5 linked regions of the Homo sapiens genome follow. The protein of the gene in region 2 interacts with the protein of the main gene of each other region in a biochemical or structural test. Each region holds a gene or a part of one and is shown on either strand. Other genes may lie near its edges.

What was found.
Region 1: the proteins of RGS12 (region 2) and DOCK4 interact in a test that uses a peptide from one of them, tested with the Homo sapiens proteins (one large-scale study listed by IntAct).
Region 3: the proteins of RGS12 (region 2) and RASSF6 interact in a test that uses a peptide from one of them, tested with the Homo sapiens proteins (one large-scale study listed by IntAct).
Region 4: the proteins of RGS12 (region 2) and ITGB1 form a complex in vitro, tested with the Homo sapiens proteins (one study listed by IntAct).
Region 5: the proteins of RGS12 (region 2) and PBK interact in a test that uses a peptide from one of them, tested with the Homo sapiens proteins (one large-scale study listed by IntAct).

Annotation. Positions count from the first base shown.
Region 1 is NC_000007.14:111,726,421-111,731,323, forward strand, and holds part of DOCK4 (dedicator of cytokinesis protein 4), read right to left. Parts: intron 2,301-4,903; coding exon 1,854-2,300; 3' UTR 1-1,853. UniProt on the Homo sapiens protein: Functions as a guanine nucleotide exchange factor (GEF) that promotes the exchange of GDP to GTP, converting inactive GDP-bound small GTPases into their active GTP-bound form. Involved in regulation of adherens junction between cells.
Region 2 is NC_000004.12:3,435,423-3,439,021, reverse strand, and holds part of RGS12 (regulator of G-protein signaling 12), read right to left. Parts: intron 1-3,599. UniProt on the Homo sapiens protein: Regulates G protein-coupled receptor signaling cascades. Inhibits signal transduction by increasing the GTPase activity of G protein alpha subunits, thereby driving them into their inactive GDP-bound form.
Region 3 is NC_000004.12:73,582,034-73,586,936, reverse strand, and holds part of RASSF6 (ras association domain-containing protein 6), read left to right. Parts: intron 1-1,572; coding exon 1,573-1,757; intron 1,758-2,103; coding exon of another isoform or gene 2,104-2,118; exon of another isoform or gene 2,119-4,331; intron 4,332-4,646; coding exon 4,647-4,748; intron 4,749-4,903.
Region 4 is NC_000010.11:32,902,376-32,906,984, forward strand, and holds part of ITGB1 (integrin beta-1 isoform 1A precursor), read right to left. Parts: intron 1-4,609.
Region 5 is NC_000008.11:27,823,942-27,828,844, forward strand, and holds part of PBK (lymphokine-activated killer T-cell-originated protein kinase), read right to left. Parts: intron 4,258-4,903; coding exon 4,164-4,257; intron 1-4,163. UniProt on the Homo sapiens protein: Phosphorylates MAP kinase p38. Seems to be active only in mitosis. May also play a role in the activation of lymphoid cells.

The sequences.
Region 1 (4,903 bases), on a different chromosome or scaffold from region 2:
ACTTCTTTAAAGCAACAGAAATATGGAGCTTCACATATATATGTATATATATATGAATGTGGTTACAAACACGAAGTGTTATCAAAAGCAAAAGCTAGTTCAAAAAATTTCTGACTGCAAAACTTGCAAGATACAAAGCTAAAATGCATATGTTCCTTTTCTCAATTATGAACACTTTCACTAAACATAAATATTTAACATATATTAATTTTTCCGACATTCAAAATTGTAAAGTCAATATGGCAGAATTGTTAAAAGCACATATGTACAAATATTCTTTTTCCATACGTAAAGTATTTGGCATAATTATAACAATCATACTGCATCAACAACTGTTTGCGTTTATTTTTACTTTTTTTTACACATAATGGTATCTCTTATTAAAATTAACCAGTTATATACAAAAATACTTGAACATTTATTATAGAAAACCTCTATAACCAGCCTCAACAGCATATACCTGCTGAATGGTTTCATTAAGAGAATATAAAAAAGTGGTCACTGCCTTCCAGGTAAGCTACCAACAAAACAAACATGGTTAAACTAAAATGAGCTTCCCAACAAAAGAGGGAAAATATTTAACAGTATGATTTAAAATACAGTTCATATCTATTGTCAATTGAGTGTTATAAACAGTCAGTAAAAGAAAAAACAAAGATATAAAATACATTACTACATACAAGGTGCTTTTTTCACACTTCTACAACTGGCATTAGCATCCCTATCTAGACCTAAGATGCTATGTTGCAATATTCAAGCTAGAGAAGTCTACAGCAATCCTCCTTCAAGAGAAAGACGACAGGTCAGCTAAGACAAACTCCACTGGTAAAAGTGGAGAGTCGTGAGGAATTTTTTATTTTGTGCAGGACTGAAAGTTAATGCCCTTGCCTTTTATAAGTCCTTTTGCCATTTAATCGTGCTAATACATTTTCACTAAGTTTTTTTTTTCTTCACTTAAGCTATTAATTTAATACTGTCTGTATTGATTCCTGAATTCTTGCTAATGGGGCACAGTCATTTGTGCCTCATTAATACTTCAGCATTTGCTCTTGTTCAATGACAAATTTTATATAGGAAACTATCAAGAAAGGAAGCGCAAAATTCAAGTAAACATTTCTTCTGGAGCCTCTTGCTTAATCTAGCTGATTGGAACTCTGAAGCAAATTGCACCTTGAAAAGAAATACAGTAGATACCACGGTGTCAGGGTAGTAAGGGATTTAGCTACCAATTCACAAAATAGAATTTTACGAATGTAGACAGCAGTCAAACAGCAAAAGCAACCTTAAAGAAGTATTTTGTTTCAAGAACAAAACAATTTCCAGTCCCAAGCTTTGCAACCCCTTAAGTATACTGTCTTGCTCGCCTGCTTGAACTTTAATTCTGATGATCTGCACTGATAAACCTTGCCTTATTTACAGAAGTCTTCTAAAATAAGGACCACTGTGTTAGGATGTGCACTGACTTAATAAGCTTTCTCCAAGTATCAAGTATTCAGTAAAAACGATACAACATTGTCACACATTGTATCGTTTGACAATATCGTATTGGTTTTAAGATTAAACTATATAAAAAAAAGTGAACATAAAAAGGTACAAAAGGAGTCTTTATCACTATTTACCACTTCCAAATGAGAAACGTTTTAATGAAATTCAGCCATACTTCATTTAACATCTGGCGTTTTAGATCAGCAACTTTTAATATTGTGCAACATGATATTTAATAAGCAAGTTTTAATTCCATTCATCGAAGGAGCTGAGTAAGTTATTAAAGTGCCTACACTAAATGTCTTCTCATCATACTTCTTATTTTGTAAACGGGCAAAGAATGCATCGCAGGTACATAGAAAAGTGACTTATAACTGAGAGACCTTGCGGGGCAGGGGCCTGGGCCGCGGGCCGGGGTCAGTCCTCCGGGCCCCATTCTCCAGGTGGCTGGATCGCGCTGCCAGAGGCTTGGGGGGCAGCGCGGGCGGCTCCGACGTGACGGGGATGGAGAGGCTGTGAGGTAGCGGGACGGGGCGCCGCAGAGTCCGCTCGTAGACGCTGTACGGGGGCGGAGTCTTGCTCTCCTTGCGCACTGGCTCCTCCCCGCCGTAGCTCGGCACGGGCACCGGCACTGGCACCGGCAGGGGGGCCGACTGTTCATTCACCTGATTTTCAAAGCCTGAGGTTTCCGACGTGCTGCACCGGCTGAGAGAAGAAATCCCACTGCTGTAGCTGCCCGACAAGACAGGGGAGTTGGAGATGAGTCCTGGCGAGTGGTACTCCACTGGAGAGGGGGTGAAAGACTGCACAGAGCCCTGCTCCGGGGAGAAGGAAACGAGAGGGAGACACAGCATTGAGTCGTGAACGCAGATGCGCTGAAATGTACGCCCCGACGCGGAGGCCCCGGCCCCCAGCACCCCCAAAGCCGGCTGCAGCAGGAGATGCAGCCTTTAAGGAGGTGATTAAGGTAAAAGGCCATTATGGTGGATCCTAATCCAAGCTGACTGGTGTCCTTATAAGAGACATTTGGACACACAGGGAGACGTCAGGAATGCGACACACACAGACCTTGCAGGAAGGGCGGTCTGCAAGCCCAGGAGGGAGGCCTCGGGGAAACCAAGGCTGCCACGCATTGATCCTGGACTTCTACCTGCCAGAATTGAGAAAATACATTCCCAGTGTCTAAGCCACCCAGTTTGTGGTATTTTGTGAGGGAAGCCCGAGCAGACGAATACACTCACACTCAAATTTGAGTGTTGTCCTTTGTAGCACTGAAAATGCACACCAGACGTTTATCTGCGAGGGCCACCAGTCCTCGAGTTCAGTTCACCGCCCAGTTTACTCCTTATCATTTTCAGATAGAGGAGAAAGGAGCTGGGCATGGTGGCTCACGCCTGTAATCCCAATACTTTAGAAGGCCGATGCAGGGATCACTTGAGGCCAGGAGCTTGAGACCAGCCTGGGCAACATGGCAAAACCCCATTTCTACTAAAAATCCAAAGGGTTAGCTGGGCGTGGTGGCTCATGCCTGTAATCCCAGTTCCTCTGGGAGGATCACCTGAACCTTGGGAGGTTGAGACTGCAGTGAGCCGTGGAGCCACCAGTGCACTCCAGCCTGGGCAACACAATGAGACCCTGTCTCAAAAAATAAATAAAGGTATCCACCAAGATAATCTGGAGGCACACATTAGTCCTATAGTTTGGAAGAGAGGGAACTGGCCAAAAACCCCAAAAACCTAAAAACGCCATAAAACCTTTGGGGGCGCTATTCACTTTCCCAGCTCAGCAGGGCATGCTGCAGGCCAGGAGCCAGGGCCGCTGAGCACACTCAGCTCAGAAGACCCAGAGAGCTCAGGAGGAGGAGCAGAGGCACCCGAGGTTCTGCACCTGATTTCTCCAGCCATCACTCCAGACTCCAGACTCCTGAGCTGAACTGGCGAACTGGCAGCCCTCGGGGCTGTAGCCTGTGATGTGAGCTGTTTCCTCAGCAGTTTTTTAAAAACCTAATTTAGTTAATTTTTAACATTTCAAATTTCACATGAAACTCCAGAATTCTGGCAGTTCATAAAGAACTAGGAGTTCTGGCCACAATGGCACACATTCTCTTAATAGAGATAATCTTTAAAAGCTGAGAAGGGCTGTCCCTTTTCACTTTGCCAGTCCCCACTATGCCACGTGGGGACTACACCCGGCCTCCTTCATTTGTGTCAGCTGTCTGGCCCCATTTGGCATCTGAGTTTGTTACTTTCCCAACTAGTATCCCAAGGAAAACGAGTCCTAAGATAGATGCTCTGTGAAAAGAGGGTTCCGCTGGGAAATGCTGCACACTGTATACTCCTTGTGTATATTCAAAACATATTCGCATTTTCAAGGCTTAGAATAAAGGAATACAAATAATTTTGTTCAGTCCAGTGTTTTCCAAACTTACTTGACTATAGACCTTTTCTCCCCCGCTTATTACATAATGTCCTGGAAAACTAGTGTTCTATGGTATACACTTTGAGAAATGCTATCTTCTTAAGCTAACTTGACTTTGGTTTCTCTTTGTAAACAAAATAACGCTGGTAGATACACATCCTGTCATTTAGTAGGAGCCTAACATTAAGGCCAATTAAGAGTTCCCAATTCACTGCTACCTCTGTCAAAAGTTAGACCTGAAATTCAAAATATGGCAGGTCAGCTCAGTCTTCGCTGTAGGGTTAGACCCACAGTTTGATGGCTGGCTGGGGTAAAAAAAAAACCCAAAACCCCACTAAACTCTTATCAGTTAAGGCAGCACACTGCAAGGCTAGTAACATGGTAGCAGTGTGCCCCCTAATGTAACCCAGGAGGTATAACACAAATGTTCGATCTATGTTCTCTTCCTTCAAACCCTACATATAAAGACATGGCTTCGAACTGCATATGGCCAGTAAAAATGTACACAGGTCTGCTGAGAGACAGTATATACCAGCTTGCTAAGACTATTTTATAGCTATTCAAACATTTTTAGCTCTTGGGTTCTTTTTAATGTTTAAGAATTAATCTCTTAAGACTTATTTTCTTACTACCCAACAAAATTTAAGTTGAAAAATACAGATGATAATTCCATAGCAACGTGTGGGAGCTCTGTGTGAGTAAGGGCAAATGTAAAAGTGCGGAAAAGCCATGTTGCTTTCCTTTCTATCACATCGAGGTGACAGGCTATGACTTCCAGAGTGAATGCTGTCACAGGTACTTCATAATAACAGCTGCATTACAGAATGAGAACAAAACGAGCAAATCACTTGCACTTACCCGCGAATTTCTACGTCAGAAATTCTGGCAATGCAAGGGAATCACACTTCTTTCAATTTTCTCCATTTTGCGGGGGGAGGCGGGTTGTTTTCCCGTTTCTCAATTTCTATCAGCAACTATCGTTAGCACCACAGATGCACTG
Region 2 (3,599 bases):
GCTGGACCCTCTTGGCCTGGTGGAACGGGCCCTGAGCCCTGTGTCTGCTGCCCCATCCCACCCTGCCAGGCTGGCCACCTGCTCGCCCACCTGCCTCGCTGCCTCAGCACCGTCTTCACCGTACACACCCTGCTCTGGGCCTCCCGGTCGTGTCCCCTCCCCCTCCATCCCTGGCCCCCCTACTGAGGCCCCTCTTTCCGGCTGGTCAGTGACTCTTGCCCCACTTCTGGCTCCAATGCCCACTCCAGCCCCAGGAGATCCCGGCTGCCTGAACCGGCCTTGGAAGCTTCTAGACCCAACATGGGCAGGCCATCTCCTTGCCAGCACCCCCGGGAGGCCTCCCTACCCAGGGCGTCACTGCCCTGCCACATCTGGTGACCTCCACGTGGACCCCTGGAAGACACAGTTGTGTCTATGCCAGGGTGGAGTCCCCAGGGGCCAACGAAGGCTGGGGCCAAGGAAAGTGAACGGTGCACGCAGAATGGCTGGGTTCATGTGCCGCCCGGAGCTCCATGGCAGGACCCCAGGGCCTGGGAAGGGGCAGTGAAGCCCCCGTGCTGGGAGAGCCCAGCCCTTCCCGCCCACTGACCCCACCCCCCCATCTGTACGGTGGGGGTGACGTTGCCGACCCGCCCAGTGACCCCACCCCCCCATCTGTGCGGTGGGGGTGACGTTGCCGACCCAGAGGAGCAGGCTTCGGGGGCAGGTTCCTGCGTACCTAGCGTGTCTCCTAGGCAGGGGTCCAGGAGCTCCCTTCCTCAGTGAGCCTGGGGCTGAGGCCCTGAGACAGTCATGTCCATGCCAGGGTGGAGGCCTTGAGGCGCCTATGGGGTGGCAGGAGCCCCAGGCCTGGGCCCACAGCAGACAGGAGGCAGGAAGAGCCAGCCCCCGGCACATGAGAACCAGGGACAGGGGGTCCCTGCTACCAACTGCTGCCCTCCACAGGTGAATCGAAGGCCTGGGAAGGTGAAGACCCTCCTCGATCTACAGTTCTGAGGTCCCTGAAATGGCCGCAGGGTCCTTGCTGCCCCAGCGGCTCCGTGGCCACCAAGGTCCCCAATCCCAGCGTGCCCCTCCTCACCCTCAGTCCAAGCTTCCGGAAGCAGCCTCCATGAGGCATCTGTGAACAAGTCCGGGCTGCGGGCGGAAGGTGTGACTCCCCTCTTGAGCGTGCCCAGCCCGTTCTCTTGAACAGGTCCCAGCAGTGGCCCCAGAGGCCCTCATCCTGGCCTCGACGCAGCAGCCCAGCCAGCATGTGGGAGCTGTGTGGGGCCTGTGTGTCTTACTCAGCCAGGCCCGGTGGAGATGCCATCTGGAGGCCCAGGGGTCCATGTGGAGCAGCTGAGACTAGAAACTTCTCCCAGTCAGGCCTCTGCTCATTCAACAAGTGTCCTACTAGGTTCTGCCAGGGCTAGGAGCTAGCCCTGCCCCCAGGGGACAAGGGGACAGTTCTGCCCATCTCCTTCTTGTCACCAGGTCCGCATGGCTCCAGATGCCAGGCTGCAGGGCTGGGAGATATCGTGTGGGGAGAGGCAGGGGTTTGCCCCCTCTCGCCGGTCAATACCGTGGGCATTTGGGCATTTGCCTGGAGTGTTCATAGGGCTCTGAAGGGGCCTGCAACACCACACATGTCCAGAAGCCCGGCTCTACCCCGCCAGCCCCACATGGACAGATGGGAGGACAGGCCCCTGAGGGCCCCAGGAAGCTAGTGTGCTCAGGATGGAGAAACACTTGTTTCTGGAGACAGGACAGCTCTGTATGGACCAAGGATGTCCACATCACAAGGAGGGGGCCACAGCCAGGCCCTTCCTGCCTACGGGAGCCAGCCTCGCCCTCCTGTGCAGGGCAGCCAGCCCCAGGCCTGTGACTCAGCTGCCTGGCCCCGCCCTGAGCAGCACGCTGCCTCACCACCTACATGCCAGGGCCTGCCCGGGGAGCACCTTCTTGCCCAGCATTTCCCTGGCAGGGATGGCAACACAGAGGACCCAGCAGAGCCTGCACCACCTCCAGAGGGGCCTGGCCTCCTGGTCTCACTCCTGGTGCCACATCTCCAAACATCCAGACCTGAGGCCACACTGGGATCTTGTTCCCTGCCGCTTGGGCCACCTGTGAACCTCTCCCCGGCGCCCCACGGCTCCCTGCCCTCGGCTGGCTGGTCCTGCCGGCTCCGACTGTGCTGTCCAGCCTTCCCAGGAGGGGGTCCTGCTGGAGGCCCCACAAGATGCAGCAGGAAGGCCCCTCTTTCCACATGCGCAGGCCCCTCACCGGCTGCCGGTCGCCCCCAGGCCTCCCAGACACTTGTCCATGAATGTCTCTGTGCCAGCCACTGCCAGCTGCTCTGGCCTAGGCCTGGGGCAGGACCCCGCCCCACCCTGGTCCTCAAAGCTGAGTCAGGAACCCTGGCAGGCACAGCGGGAGCAGGGGCTGCACTGGCCTGGCCGGGGCAGGGGCATGGCCTGAACTCTCCCAGGCTCTCCTTCGAGACCCAGGCCTGGCACCTCTCCCACTGCCCGCCCTTCCTGCCCCCCGAGGGACCCCGTCCCCCAGGCACTTTGCTCAGCCTCTGCCTCCATGCTCCACATCATCTGTGCTGCCAAGCGCAGCCACCTCCTCTGTGAAGCCTCCCCAGCGCCCCTTGGAAGCTCGCAGGGCACAAGGACACCCAGGCAAGGCTGAGCCGGCTCACACTGAGAACACGGCAGGAAGGGGGGAGCGAGGGGAGCCAGAGGCGGGGACCCTACAATCCACTGTGGCTCCCAAGGCCCCTTCCCTTCCCAGCCTTCCCACCACAGCGCACCCCACGGGCTCCTGCTAAGGCCTGTGCACTCCTGCTGATGGGCCCCCATGGGAACGAGAGCACCCCCAGAACCTTAGTTCCAGAGTGTGACCCCCCCAAGGTCCCCCTGTCCGTGTGGGTCCCCAGCCAGGATCATGACTGTGTGTGATGGGCTGGGGCTGGGATAGAGCTCCTCAAATATTTGCTGGGCATTGGCGAGGGAGTGGACAGCGCCCAGCAGGGTGCACAGTGTGGTGAGTGGGGAATAGGGGAGTGGGGAATAGGGGAGTGGGGGTGACTGAGGGCACAGGAGTGCATGTGGCAGACCCCAGGGAGGGGCTTCAAGCCGGAGCTCCAGCAGTGCGGGCTGAGATGGGCACAGGTGGCCAGTCCTGGAGGGAACATGGGGGTAGGCCAGGTCACAGTCACTTGCAGGCCTGAGACTTCCACTCTGCAAGACCTGGCTGGAACTTCAGGTGGAAGGCAGACACTTCAGGGGAGGAGGGGGAGCAACCTAGGGTGGCTTCTGGTGGGATCCGGGAGGACCACGTGTCACAACCAGGCTGGGGGCTGTGGAGGAGGGCCGAGGCCAGCTGGTCAGTTCAGGAATCCCCTGGGGAGCCACGGAGCTGGGCAGGAGCCAGGAGATGCTGGGGGGAGACAGGGCTCTGGGGAGACGGGGCTCTGGAGAGAGGGGGCTCTAGGGAGAGGGGGCTCTGGGGAGAGGGGGCTTTGGAGAGGCACCTAGCAGATGCCCTCAGCAGCTTTGCAGGCCTGAGACCAGTGGCAGGCTCCTGGGGCTGTGTCCCCAAGAAAACCAGCG
Region 3 (4,903 bases), about 70 Mb from region 2:
ATGTTTGTTCTCTTTTTTTTTTTTTCAAATCATTCTCAATTCTGCCTCGTCTGCTATTCCACAGGAACCCAGATCCTGTGACAAACATGATGTTCCTTCCAGGGTTCCCTTTTCTCTTTATGCCATGGGATCTTTACATCTTGTTAAATATCGGCCCTTCCAATTATCTTTTAGAAATATATATGAAACCCAAGGAAATCCCAGTATCTTGGCATCAAAGACATCATAAAAATATATTTGTATTTAAACAGCAGTGCTAGAGAAGGAAGAAATATCTCATGCCTATTTGATAATGTTCTAATTACAGTAGAAAATTTTTTAAAATCCTAAAGTAAAATAAAACACAAATGCCACCACATGGTCTTATTCTTACATATGAATATGCATAGGAGAGGAAATTGAAAAAGGTACTATCAATTGTATACAAGCAGAAAGGGGGGCAGAAGGCAGGTTTGAATCTTCTGCATCTTAGGCTAGTAACACATTGTAGCTCAATTCAATTCCATTTAAACACCTTCTGCCTACTCAATAGATACTAGAGTTGTTCAACGCTACACTATAATTTTATACTCTAAAATCTGCTATAGAAATTGTAATAATTCAGTAACCAAATTTTGACTAATCAATTATGAATCATTGTTAAATATACATGACTCAATGAGAAGAAATAATAGGATAGTGGACAACTAAGTGAAAAAGTCATTCATATCATACATCTGGAATGTTCTAAAAAGAACATAATGTGATATATTACAAATAGTAGGACTAGTCCAAAGCATACTATTCCTTTTGCTTTTATAAAAGATGGGAACAAAATCTTTCAATGCTCCACATACCATATAAATAGCTTCTCAAAGAGCTTTCTGTAGTTTTATAGGAAAACTAAGGCCCAGTGTTTATTTTTTAGGAAAAGCTCCAAAGAACTTGGGCCAACATATAATGGGGTGGGGGGAGGGGGGAGGGATAGCATTAGGAGATATACCTAATGCTAAATGACGAGTTAATGGGTGCAGCACACCAGCATGGCACATGTATACATATGTAACTAACCTGCACATTGTGCACATTACCCTAAAACTTAAAGTATAATAATAATAAAATAAAAATAAAAATAAAAAAATAAGGATCCAGACCTGATTCTATCATTTATGAGTACTATGTCCATAGGAAAGCCACTTCAACTCACTGTACTTTTTCTTACCTGTAAGAGATCAAACCTGATAAAGTATCAGGTTTATTCCAGCTCTAACACTCTGAAATGCCACAAAATGCACTCCCCAATAAATTAAGATTAAAGGAATGCCCAAACCCCAAACATGATCATTGTGATCATTTCTTATGAAACATAAGAATGAGACATAAGAATTTTATATGAGATACTGGCAGAATTTGCTGAGTCAGTCTCAGGCAACATTTAATAAGTAAATATGCAGCTAAGCAGTGGACTATAATGCTTTTACACAGCCAGAAAATAGCAATATTCCTAAAATTAATGAAAGCATACACAAATCCACTCAGGATGCTAGGACACAGGCAGCTGAATGATATGAGCTTATAATCTATTCTTCCCAGACTATTTATCTTATCACAGCAACACCCTGAAGCCACATGCAAAGGATGAACCAGACTCCCCAGTGCTCTATAGAACCATGAGTGAAGCAGCTCTGGTGAGAAAAAGGATGAAGCCTCTGATGATGGACAGAAAAGAAAGACAGAAAAATAGAGCCTCTATTAATGGACACTTCTATAACCATGAAGTAAGTGAGTTACAATTCCATTAATGTAATATAAAATAAGGTTCCCTGTTTCACTAACAATACCACCCAATTCAATTCACAATTTAAAGTCATAATAATAACAGTAGCATGTCTAACATCTTGGGGGCACTCTCTATGTGCTAGATATTAAAGTAAATGTGTTTTAAATAGATTTTTACTGAATTATCTTATTAATCACTAAAACAATCCTATGAAATAGGTACCATTATTTTCTTTACTTGACATATAAGCTAATTGAGGCTTATGGAGATTAAGCAATTTGTCTTAGATTATGCTACTCTTAAGTAGTAACTCTCAACCTGAACCCAGCTTTGTCTGACTCCAGAACACAAGTTTTTAACCACCATGATGGGTGAACTCTATCACTGTGCCAAGTATTAAAAACATGCAGATGAGGCAGCCGATGTCTCAGCCAGCACGGAGCTCAGGGATTGAGCAGGGAAACCAACATACCAACAATAATACTGGAATAATGTAAGTGCTACAAAGTGGTTGGATCAAAGGACATTTGAACGTGAACATTTAAATAAAAGGAAAAAGCCACAGGCCAATTTATTCCAATAAATCAAACTTCTCATGTTGCCATGTTCCAGGTCTTTTACCTATACACATACCGTTTTTATATAAGTGTAGTTGTAGTTTAGATACAATTCACATTCTGCTTTTTCACTGAATATGTGTTAAATTTATATGTGCCTTTCCATAGTGCTTGTAAGACATTACATTTTGCTGAAGGTAGGAAATATATCATCATTTTTTTCCAGAACTCAAATATTTTTCATGTGATGTACTTTAGCAATCATTCATCGCTCCATCTCATAAATACTTAGCACTTACACTGTGCCAGGTATCTTCTGAGGCCTTTAATAAGAAATAGGAACTCATTGCTTTGTAGGCTTTTTCCTGTAAGGATTTCTACTTTATTTCTTCTTCTTCTACCCTTGGGGGGTAACGATAGTGTGTCTTTGGAGCCTGGTGGGGAGAAATCTCTCTTCTCAATTATTTATTCATATCAGAATTTTAGGGTTCCAGAATCATTCTCATAGCTATAAAGTAGCATTGATAGTCCCCCACAGAGAGGTACCTACCAATTGTCCTGTTTCCCTCTTCACAGAAATTGTGTTGTATGTCATTATCTTGTGGGGTAATTTGTGTTGAAGAAGGAAAGCCACATTGCTCCAAGCAAGTGGCTTTCAGATTGGATCACTTGTGCTGGAAATGAAATTGACACTAGGTTGGCAGCACGGAATGGTGGTTAAATGCTTGGGCCCTGGAGCTTGACAGCCTGGTTTTACATTCTTGCTGAGCAAGTTTCATTCTTCTTACTTTACAAGGCTGTTGATGGGATGGAATGAAATGAGGTAAGTTCAGCATAAGAATAGTACCTGGCACAAAAGAACTCGGTCTACATTAGCTTATGTTGTTGCTGTTGATTGAATGAGCTCAAGCTGGGACTATAGATATTTTACACAAATGTCATTCACTGCAATTTAATAACTAGCAGAAAACAATACAAACAAAAAAGAAAAAACAAAGCATTCTATCAACAATTATACAATGACGGACATCTAGGAATTTTAGTGGATATGTTTCTTAAGTTGCTGTGTGTCGTAAGATATGTTTTTATACTATGAAGCCCCTTGTTAATGCCAATATTGTTAGGCTATGAATAACACACATATTAAAGGCTTAGATTGTCATATCTGGAGATTAGTTATGGTGAATATAACTTGACCAGTAGTATATTTCTATCAATGTGATAGTAAATGATAGCAGGTTTCATTATATGTTTTGGCCAACACAACTGATATAAAGACTATAGATTTAAATACTGCTCTGAAAAACAAATTCACTATATGTTGACATTTTAGAAGAGCTCTTAGAGATTAGTCTTACTATCTTATTTTATAAATGAAGTCATTTATCAAATATATGTTAAGTGAGTCAATAAAGATGTTAAATGAGTTGACAAAGTTGGAGTTCGTGGGCATTTAGTGGGCACTAAAATCTAGGTCTCCTGAATGGTAATCCATGTTATTGTCATAGTGCATGAAGCTTCTTCACATAAACAACATCAAACCACGTGTACAACATATCATATTCACCTTAGCGCAGGATGAACATGTGGTTTTTCAGGGCTCCATAGAAATCGTAAATGTCACAGAATAACTTATCAATGCTCTAAAATGTCTACAAATATTGAATTTTCTCATACTTATAAAAGTTTATCCTAGACACTCTCCACACATCTTCTCAGAAAACTTATTTACATATCCACATTTTTACTCACACAAATGCCGTGTGTGTGTGTGTGCGTGTTACATGTGTGGGTGTTATAAATGTTTGTGTCTGTATACTTTGATGTTAATTTACTGATCTCTCAATATAGGACTTATCTTTTTAACAGTCCAATGAGCCACCCCAAAACCCACCCATCTCTACATCTGCTGAACCCACCCCATTTCTACAGAGCCTTGGAATACTTGGAGATTGTGCATATAAATAAAATATGTGGAAATAAATCCTTACTTAATATCTCTATCCGTTTTTAAATATGCATCTGGTGACATTCTTTCTTACTTATTTTGAAATCTTAAACTGCACTAAAGAGGGGTGTAATTGTCCAGTGAAAATGTTATAAGCATCCTCAAATGGTGTTTTACCTAATTTACTCTAGAAACAATATAAAGCTGCTTAAAAGAACACATAATATTCAAAAACAACAAAGAAAAACAAACAAAAACAAAACAAATTTTTTAAATTAATGACCTTGGATTTTTTTTGCCCTATAAGAAGATTATGTTCAAGATATTGAATACCCTTAATATAATATAATTTTAAAGACTTATGTGACAATTCTTTTTCTAGACATCAATTTTCATTCCAGCCTTTGAATCAGAAACTAAGGTCAGAGTAAACAGTAACATGAGAACTGAAGAAGTAATAAAGCAACTTCTCCAAAAATTTAAGGTAACCTTTATCACTTAACTGAGCTATAAATATATTATATATAATTCAACTATAAACACACAAATCCACTCTTCTGAAACAGATCTATAAAGGTGTAAATCTAAATTGGATGTTGAGCACTGAAAGATTCTTTCCTTTGTATAACACCTTTTAGT
Region 4 (4,609 bases), on a different chromosome or scaffold from region 2:
TTTTAAGCAGAAAAAAACATATCACTGTATCACCCTTTTCCTTAAAAATTCTCTTATACTATAACTGCTACATTTAAATACTTGCTATAGCATTCTTTTTTCTCCTGTTCTTATAAATTGAAAGCAGGCTTGAAAGCCAAGTGAGAAGTGTGACCAAATAACACTTAATCAGAGAAAATTACAGTGAGTACAAATAAAAAATACTTGTTAACTACCAGGGAAATTTTTTTTAAGAAAAAATTAAGATTTTGGAATGTTGTTCAGTTTTATATCTCACTATAGAACCAACTGCAGGTGATTTTTAAAAAAATATTTATAGAAAGCATCTAAAACATTTTTTGATCTAAAAGTAATTTTTGTTTTTAAATTTTATTCACACTTCATTGCAGACTGTATTTGGATCTGCCTTTTGGTGGCACAATTTCTGCCCTCAAGGAAGGTATAGTTTGGTGGGTGAGAGACATGAAAATAAGGCACTCTGATGAAGTTTACAATAGAGTTATGAACATAATCTGGGAATAGTATAAGAAAAAAGTTATTAACTTTAAGAAGATTAAGGAGATTTTCATTGTGAAATTGACTAGAAAAATTATTGGTTGGTAAATAGCAATCTATGCAAAGTCAAGGTGTAGGGAAAAGAATGGGACATTTAAGTAGAAATACATACAGTTCAGAAGTTTCTAGAGTTAGGGGAGGGCAGGCGCGGTGGCTCATGCCTGTAATCCCAGAACTTTGAGAGGCCGAGGTGGGTGGATCACTTTTGGTGAGGAGTTTGAGATCAGCCTGGCCAACACGGTAAAACCCCGTCTCTACTAAAAATACAAAAATTAGCTGGGTGTGGTGGCGGGTGCCTGTAATCCCAGCTACTCATGAAGCTGGGATAGGGGAATCACTTGAACCCGGGAAGCGGAGATTGTAGTGAGCTGAGATCGCACCACTGCACTCCAGACTGGGCGAAAGAGCAAGACTCCATCTCAAAAAAAAAAAAAAAAAAAAAAGAGGAAAAAAAAGAATTAAGGGGGCATATGATTGGAGGTGAGGAGACAAAGGAAGAACAGTCCTAGAGGCCTTGCTATGAAGTCTGAAACTTCATCCTGTAGGTATCCCATACCAATGAGGGAAAAACATTAACATATAAAGGCTGGGTCCTGCAAGACACCAAATAAACCACTGTGATTTCAGCTCAGCAGCTCATGTGATACCAATCAGAACCAGACAACATACCTCAGCCCTCACTCCCCTCTCCTCAAAATACACCTTGACTGGTTGTTTCAGAAACATGGACAAACTCAGGATCCCTCAGAGACAAACAGCATATAATGTGGATGACAAAACTGTGTACATCAAACTCTCAGCTCTAGTCCCAACTGAAGCTAATACATTATACAGCTGTGAGAGCAGACATTTCAAAATGGGGGTCAGGAAACTGGATTTTGGCAACTACTATCTTAAAAAGCCAGAGTGCAAATAAATTACACTCCACATTTATATCCTATCTGATTTGAGGCTAAGTGCTACACATTCCTTCAAATATGTTGGGAAAATAAATTAGCATCTAATTAAATTTCTTTAATACAATATATTTGCTAAATCTAGTATTTAATACTCAAGAATTATAAGGGAAGGACAAAAAAAAAAAAGAAAACAAAAAATAAAGAAAAAAAGCCCTATATAGATGAGTCCAAAGTGTAATTTATATGGAAGAACTTACCTTTGGAGAAAAATCTGTCTTGTCGTATACACAAACATTTGTATTTATTATTTCAAAGTCCACTCAAACAAAAGTTTAACATGCAAGGTTAGAGGTAAAATTAAGCTCACTATCTGTATTAGGCATCATTTTAAATGAAGGTAAACTAAAATAATTCAAATTAGTTTCCATCATTCAGAGTGCAACACCACCCCACCCCAAAAAAACCCGCAGCAAGAGAACAGGGTTATATTATGAAAGGAAGCCCTCAAGCTCAGTAAAATGTCATCTTTGTGCTCACTCTGGAATGGCTGACAGTGGTAGCTGCAGAACCATCTCTACAATGTATTAAATACATAATGCAGAAGTGTGGGAGATTTGGGAGCCACATTTAAACCCGCATAGCAGCAGATGAGGACAGACCATTTTTTTAACCCACTCCAACAGTTAGAAGCTGATAATGTGACATGTTCTTCTTAATGTTCCTACATGGTAGTCTTCTGCCAAAGTAATTAGCGCCTGCCCATTATTTCAAAAATTTCAATGACATAATTGACTGGCAAACCTTGGTCCATATCAGAAAAGTTTCTTACAATCCATGATGTAATTTCTTGATGCTCATTCATTTATTTCAATTGTTAATTTCTACTTTTTCTTGAGAAAAACATCTCTTAAAATAATCTGTAGCCATCAAATTGCCTGGACTTCAATAATGCATAGAGAAATTTTTACCAAACTTCTGCTTCCTGAATTACATAAAATGCTTATTTTAGCAACATTTTAGCCATATATACATTATAAACATTAAGTTTAAATAACATTTACTGATAATTTCCTTCAAAATACAATGAAAGGTACAGCAAGGGTGAAAATTTCACCTCAGTAGGACAGAAATTTTTTCTCTTGTGAGAAATAACCACATGAAATTGTCAACATTTGACTATTTTTGACCTACAACTAAAGAAAAAAATATGTATTAAAAAAAAAAAAAAGCCTGGCAATGTCATTGGCTAATCAGTTTTCCTCTAAAAATGACTTTCTGTAAAGTACTAAGTGAGAACGAGAAAAATATATTGTCTCAGACTAATACAAATATGTACCAACCTGCCCATATGTGAATTTGAATATAATTTTCTGCCATCAAATTTAACTTTAAAAATCTTACGGTCTACTTAGAAATAAAAATCTGACAAGTTAATGATTTCTAATGTTATCAGCACTTCCTATATCACTTGTAACTATTAAACATTCCTGTACTGTAGGCTCTTATTCATGATCAGTTTGTAAGCACACTCTCAATAGTCAAAAAACACAACAACAGCACTGGGTTCCATGTATTAAAGTGATTTCCCTAACATGATGTTTGCCAACAGCAGCAGTGTTAACTCTGACAGAGTAACAACAAATTGTAAAAGGGCTGTAAATCTCTATAAAGAGTGATCTACCTCTTCCTAACCAGGTAACGGGACTTCTGAAGATACATAACTGCTACCAAGTACAATGTCATAGACAAGAACATGGACTCTGGAGCCCAACTGCCTGGGTTCAAATCTCAGCTCTCTGACTAACCAGCCGTGGGAACTCGGTCAAGTTACATAACCCTTATGTGTCTCAGTTTTCTCATATGTAAAACATTCCTACAACTTTCACTATGAAGATTAAACACAGATTAAGTGGTCAGAATCATGCCTGAGACACAGTGATTTTTATGTAAGTGTTCCCAATACCATCTTTATCTGCACAATAAGGTAGGCAGTGAGAAAAGCAGAAATCTTCCAGGCCCTATTACAGTCAGTCAGTTGGGAAAGAGAAGAAGAGTTCTCAACCACCAGTCAGGAGAATTTAGTTCTAATCACAATTAACCTTTGTTATCAGAGTTTTAGGGGCTTGCATGATTTTATTAGAATATGCTGGAAGCATTTCATGAAAATTCAGATATGAACAGTTACAAACTTACATTTGAAAATTAGAATCATTCTCACATACACACACAGACACACACACATATATATATAATATACATACATATATATGGTCTTCTGGCTTTTAATGAAATTTCAAGTTATATTCAAGAAATTGATCTCAAATCTTTTGAGAACCAATAATGATATTGTAGTTGCATACCATACAAATATCATAGTAGGTTATATTTTTCTATTTTGCAATTTGGATTTCGTGATCAATTTTCACTATCCAACCCTAAAATTTACTCATAACAAATTTGTTATTTAAGGATAATACTGGTGGGGCACAGTGGCTCACGCCTGTAATCCCAGCACTTTGGGAGACCGAGGTGGGCAGAGCACTGGAGGTCAGGAGTTCAAGGCCAGCCCAGCCAATGTGGTGAAACCCCATCTCTACTAAAAACAAAAAAATTAGCCTAGCATGGTGGCAGGCACCTGTAATCCCAGGTACTCGGGAGGCTGAGGCAGGAGAATTGCTGGAATCTGGAAGTCAGAGGTTGCAGTGAGCTGATATCACACCACTGCACTCCAGGCTGGGCGACAGAGAGAGACTGTCTCAAAATAAATAAATAAATAAACAGAAAAAGAACAAAAGATAATAGGATAATATCATTCTAGGCACAGGACTGTTATGAGGATTAGAGCTGACAGGCTGATTTCATATACTGGAGTGCATTTGCCAAATACAACCACCCCATACAAAACAGAGTACTGACTCCCTGTGACAGTTGAGAGAAGTGAAGTGACTCAATGCTGTTCTACTTACTAAGTGGAAGAGGTGGGATTTGACCTGAGGTCTAACTGATTGCAAAGCACATTCTCTTTTCACTACAACATGGCTGCTGTTTCTATATCACATTACTTATTTTACGGTCTTTCTAAACGCGAAGTTAACATACAAAAAGAAAAGCCACAATAGCGATATTTAAAGCCAGACTTAAAAAAAGAACAGCAA
Region 5 (4,903 bases), on a different chromosome or scaffold from region 2:
AGTGAAAGAGCCTCAGAAGTTTAAGACAGAAAGTTTAATGGTAAGAACACAAAACAAGAGATTGAATCAAAGATCTGTTTAGCTTTGGACTCCCTCACAGGTATAGCTCTAAGACTGCAGAACCTTTTTTGTTTAATCAAAAAGCCTATACTAAAAGGATCACAAGATTTCTTAATTCATGTACATCTATCATCCGTAAGTTGATCTAAACTATTCTTAAACCTCCAGTTTTAAATAACAGCAGCATTTGAGGATAATGATGAGCACCTGCATATCATTTTATTATGAAAAATATATTTTTCAAATTTCAAGGGTTGAAAGTTTAGCTCTTGAAAGTTTAGAATTTAGTAAACAAGTCAATCTTCACCTTTTCCATAACATATTCTAATCTATCGAATAAGAATAGATTTATGAAATCTGAATACTCAACCATGCAAAAAGCTGGTTCATTAAAAAGACTAATAGAAAAAAGGCAAATTTCTGATGAGATTACACAAGAAAAAATAAAGACAATATCACAAATAAAAATGGAAACAAAACTACAGATACAAGAGAAAAAATATGTAAGTAAATAAAATCTTTATGCAATCATTTAAGACAAAATGGTCAAAGACTTAGAAAAATCTAAGAAAACTGATGAATGAAGAAATTTAATCACCAGTTTAAAATGTTCCTACTAGAAATACAAAGTGCAGATGATTTTACAGGTGAGTTTACTAAGCTTTCAAAGAATTTACCATTCAATCTTATACAAACTGTTTCCCCAGGGAACAGAAAAGGTACTATGAGTCTCATATAACTTTAATTTTAAAAAATCAAAAGGGACAGTAGAAAAAGGAAAACCACAAGCCAACTTCACTTATATCAGATGCAAAAATTGAAATAAACTTTAATATTAGCAAACTGAATCCATCAGTTTATTTAAAAATACTACATCAAAACTATGTTGGATTTAACCAAGAAATGCAAACTTGATTTAACAAAAAAAATATAGACTTCTGGGTTAAAATTGTAGCTTAAACATACACATTGTTTTTATCCTTTCCAAGCCCACTAACATAATAGCAAATGGATATTTTTTAGACATACAAGCCAGCAAGAATGGAAATAACAGCAGAAGAGACAACAGCAACAAAATTTCAGAAGCTGGAAAGCAGAAGAAAGTAACTGACTTAGCCCCAATGAACTGCTTGCAAGTTATTTAAAAAGCACGTAGGCCTGGAAGGGTTAGCACACAACTATAATCACAACACTTTGGGAGGCCAAGTCAGGAGGATGACTTGAGACCAGGAGTTTGAGACCAGCCTGGGCAATATAGTGAGACCCCTTCTCTACAAAAAACTTTTAAAAGTCACATGTGGTGGCCCACGCCTGTAGTCCCAGCTACTTGGGAGGCTGAGGCAGGAGGATTGCTCAAACCAAGGAGTTTGAGGCTGCAGTGAGTTATGATGGCACCATTGCACTCCAGCCTGGGCAACAAAATGAGACCCTGTCTCTAAATAATAATGGTAAAAAACAGGTGGACTCGTAGATACCCTCCTTAATTCTGTACCAACTGGCAGCTGCCCACCCCCCTTCCCCAGCTTCTAAAGATGGTAGACTAGCTTTGGAAGGTATAAAACAAGTCTTTAGCCTGAGGTTTACTGTCAGTTGAGAACCTGTAATACAGAAGCAGGTTAATAATTAATCACCATATGCATACTAAATGCTCAATGAGTTTTTACATGTGCATATACCTGTGTTATCAACACCTAGATACCGAACATTTCTAGCACTCCAAGAGACTAAAGATGCTATTTTTAAAAAGATAATTAATTAAAAACAAGATAAAAACTCAATAGAATTGTTGAAAGATAAAGCTGGGGAAATCTCAGAAAAAAGATAGCGAATAAGAAAACCAAGCAAAAAAGAGGTAGATGAGAAATCAGTAAGTTCAACATTCAAATAATTGGATTCCAGATGGAGAACAGAGAAAAAGAGGTGAAAATCATCAACAAAGTAATTTTTAAAATAATGTCTCAGAAATTTAAGAACAGGAACTATTCAGATTCCAAGATCCCCACATCCACTCATGTCATTGTGAAATTTCAGAATGCTACCGACATACAGAAGATCATACCAGGATCCAGGACAGTGGGGGGGACAGATAACATAAAACGGATTACATATGAAGAATTAGCAGTCAAAAAGGCTTCATAATTCTCAACAGCAACAGTGTAAGCTAGAAAAAAAACAATGTCAGTGACTGATATTCTCAAAATTCTGGAGGGAAATTGTTTCCAAATGAGAATTGTAACCCAGAAAACCAAAAAGGGCCATTCAAGTATGAGTAAAATGAAAACATTTTTGGAAATGCAAATTCTCAAAAAAATATATCTTCTGTGCACCGATTCATGGGGAGCTACCAGATGTCCTAAATGAAAACGGGATGTAAATCAAGAAATAATAAGACACAAGATACCTAAAAACACAGGATATAATTCAGCAGAGAAGCATAGGAAATTTGCAGGTTATGGATAAAAGAAATCCCAGGTTGACAGGGCTGAATCAGGAGGAGTGTAGGGTCAGGCAGGCACTGCTGTTCTTCAAGATCAGCTATTTGCCCAGCACTTTGGGAGGCCGAGGCGGGCGGATCACGAGGTCAGGAGATCGAGACCATCCTGGCTAACACGGTGAAACCCCGTCTCTACTAAAAATACAAAAAATTAGCCGGGCGTGGTGGCGGGCGCCTGTAGTCCCAGCTACTCGGGAGGCTGAGGCAGGAGAATGGCGTGAACCAGGGAGGCGGAGCTTGCAGTGAGCCGAGATCGCGCCACTGCACTCCAGCCTGGGCGACAGAGCGAGACTCCGTCTCAAAAAAAAAAAAAAAAAAAAAGATCAGCTATTTGAAGCTTTTTGACTAAACCACATACAGTGTAACTTTGTTAAAAACACTTTACATTTAAAAACTTTTTTTAAAAAGGGGGAAAAAAATGAAACTAGCCATAAACCTGTGAGAATTTTTTTCTTTCAAAATAGGAGTTAACACTAAAAAACAAATTAGAAAACAATACCATACAAACATACAAAAAAAATGTTTAAACTGCAAAAATGCTTCAGGAATACCCATTGTATATAATTACTAAATTATTCTTAATTAGCCTCTTATTAAAGAAAGCATTTCTATCTGGAAACAATGTAAACCTAGATGAAGCTAAGATACGGAGGGTTGGACTAGTTAGACTGATTCCAAGAATGCATTAAGGAATATATATTGATGTAGTTGTTTGCCACTTAATAAACATGAAACTAGGTACAGAGTAATGATTAAAAGAAGTAATTTTGGGCTGGGCATGGTGGCTTACACCTGTAATCCCAGCATTTTGGGAGGCGAAGGCGGGCAGATCGCTTGAGGCCAGAGTTCGAGACCAGCCTGGCCAACATGGCAAAACCCTGTCTCTACTAAAAATACAAAAATTAGCTGGGTGTGATGGTACACGCCTGTAATCCCAGCTATTCAGGAGGCTGAGGCAGGAGAAGCGCTTGAACCTGGGAGGTCGTGCCACTGCACTCCAGCCTGGTCAACAGAGTGAGACTCTGTTTCAAAAAAATATATGAATAATAAAAAAGTAATTTAAAAAAACACTTTGTTGACAGCTATATTGGCACCATACTTGTTCGATTATTTCATTTTTCTTAACACAATATTCCTACTTTAAAATCATGTATTTACCCTTCTTAATAACAATGCCATAAGAAATGAAAATCTTTTACTTCTTTTAGAAGAGCATATCTTAGGAGGGCAACGCTGCAGAAAAGACAGCAGTCACTGACATCACCCAATACTGGCTTCCTCTTTGAGGTTTTCTCATGAAGAATCTGGTTTAATTACCACAAAGGAACCCTTTCCCCTGCCACTTCCCCTTCTTATGGAAGCCAAGGAAAAATTAAAAAGTAAATGACTTCCCCTTTAATAACCCATCAGGAGGAAGCTAGGAGAAAAGCAGAGGCAGAGCTACAGGCAAAGTTACAAAAGGGTCTAGGGACCGGAATACAGCCATCAGCCAGGATCAGGAGCAGACAACCGAATCTAAATACTGGAATTTTCAGACTACTTCTTTGTCTCCAAGTACAGTAGAATTATAGTTGCATGAAAAAAGGTTAATCTGAAATCTTATACTTACCTTTTCATTAGGTACACATTTACCCCAGTACCAAAGCCAAGCTTCTGCATAAACGGAGAGGCCGGGATATTTATAGTTGGAGTTGAACATAATACTAAATGTCAGAGAAATAAAAAATAAAATTAATAAAAAATAAAAATAAAGCATCTTAACATTCTCAATATACTACTGCCAAGAGTATTAATTGGCACAGTCTTTTTGGAGAGCAATTTGACAACATATATCCTAATTTTAAATGGGTATCTTTTGACCAAGCCTACTTTTGGAGTTTTATCCTACAGTAACTCTGAAGCAGAGATTGGGAAATGGCCTGTTTTTGTATGGCCTACAAGCTAAGAACTGTTTTCACATTTTTAAAACATTGTTAAAAGATAAAGGGGTTGGATGTGGTGGCTCATGCCTATAATCTCAACGCTTTTGGAGTCCGGGGCAGGAGGGTCACTTGAGCCCAGTAGAGACCAGCTTGGGCAACATAAAGAGACTCCATCTCTACACACGAAAAAATTTTTTTAATTAGCCAGGAATGATGGCACACACCTGTGGTCTCAGCTACTTGGGAGAAACACTTGAGCCCAGGAGGTTAAGGGTGCAGGTGCAGTGAGCTGTGTTCAGCCTGGGTGACAGAGCAAGACACAGTCTCAAAAAAAAAAAAAAAAAAAAAAAAAGATGAAAAGATGGAGTTCTGCTTCTGCTCATGAAAAATAATTAACTACTCCTGGACAATTAACTGCTCCTAGAGT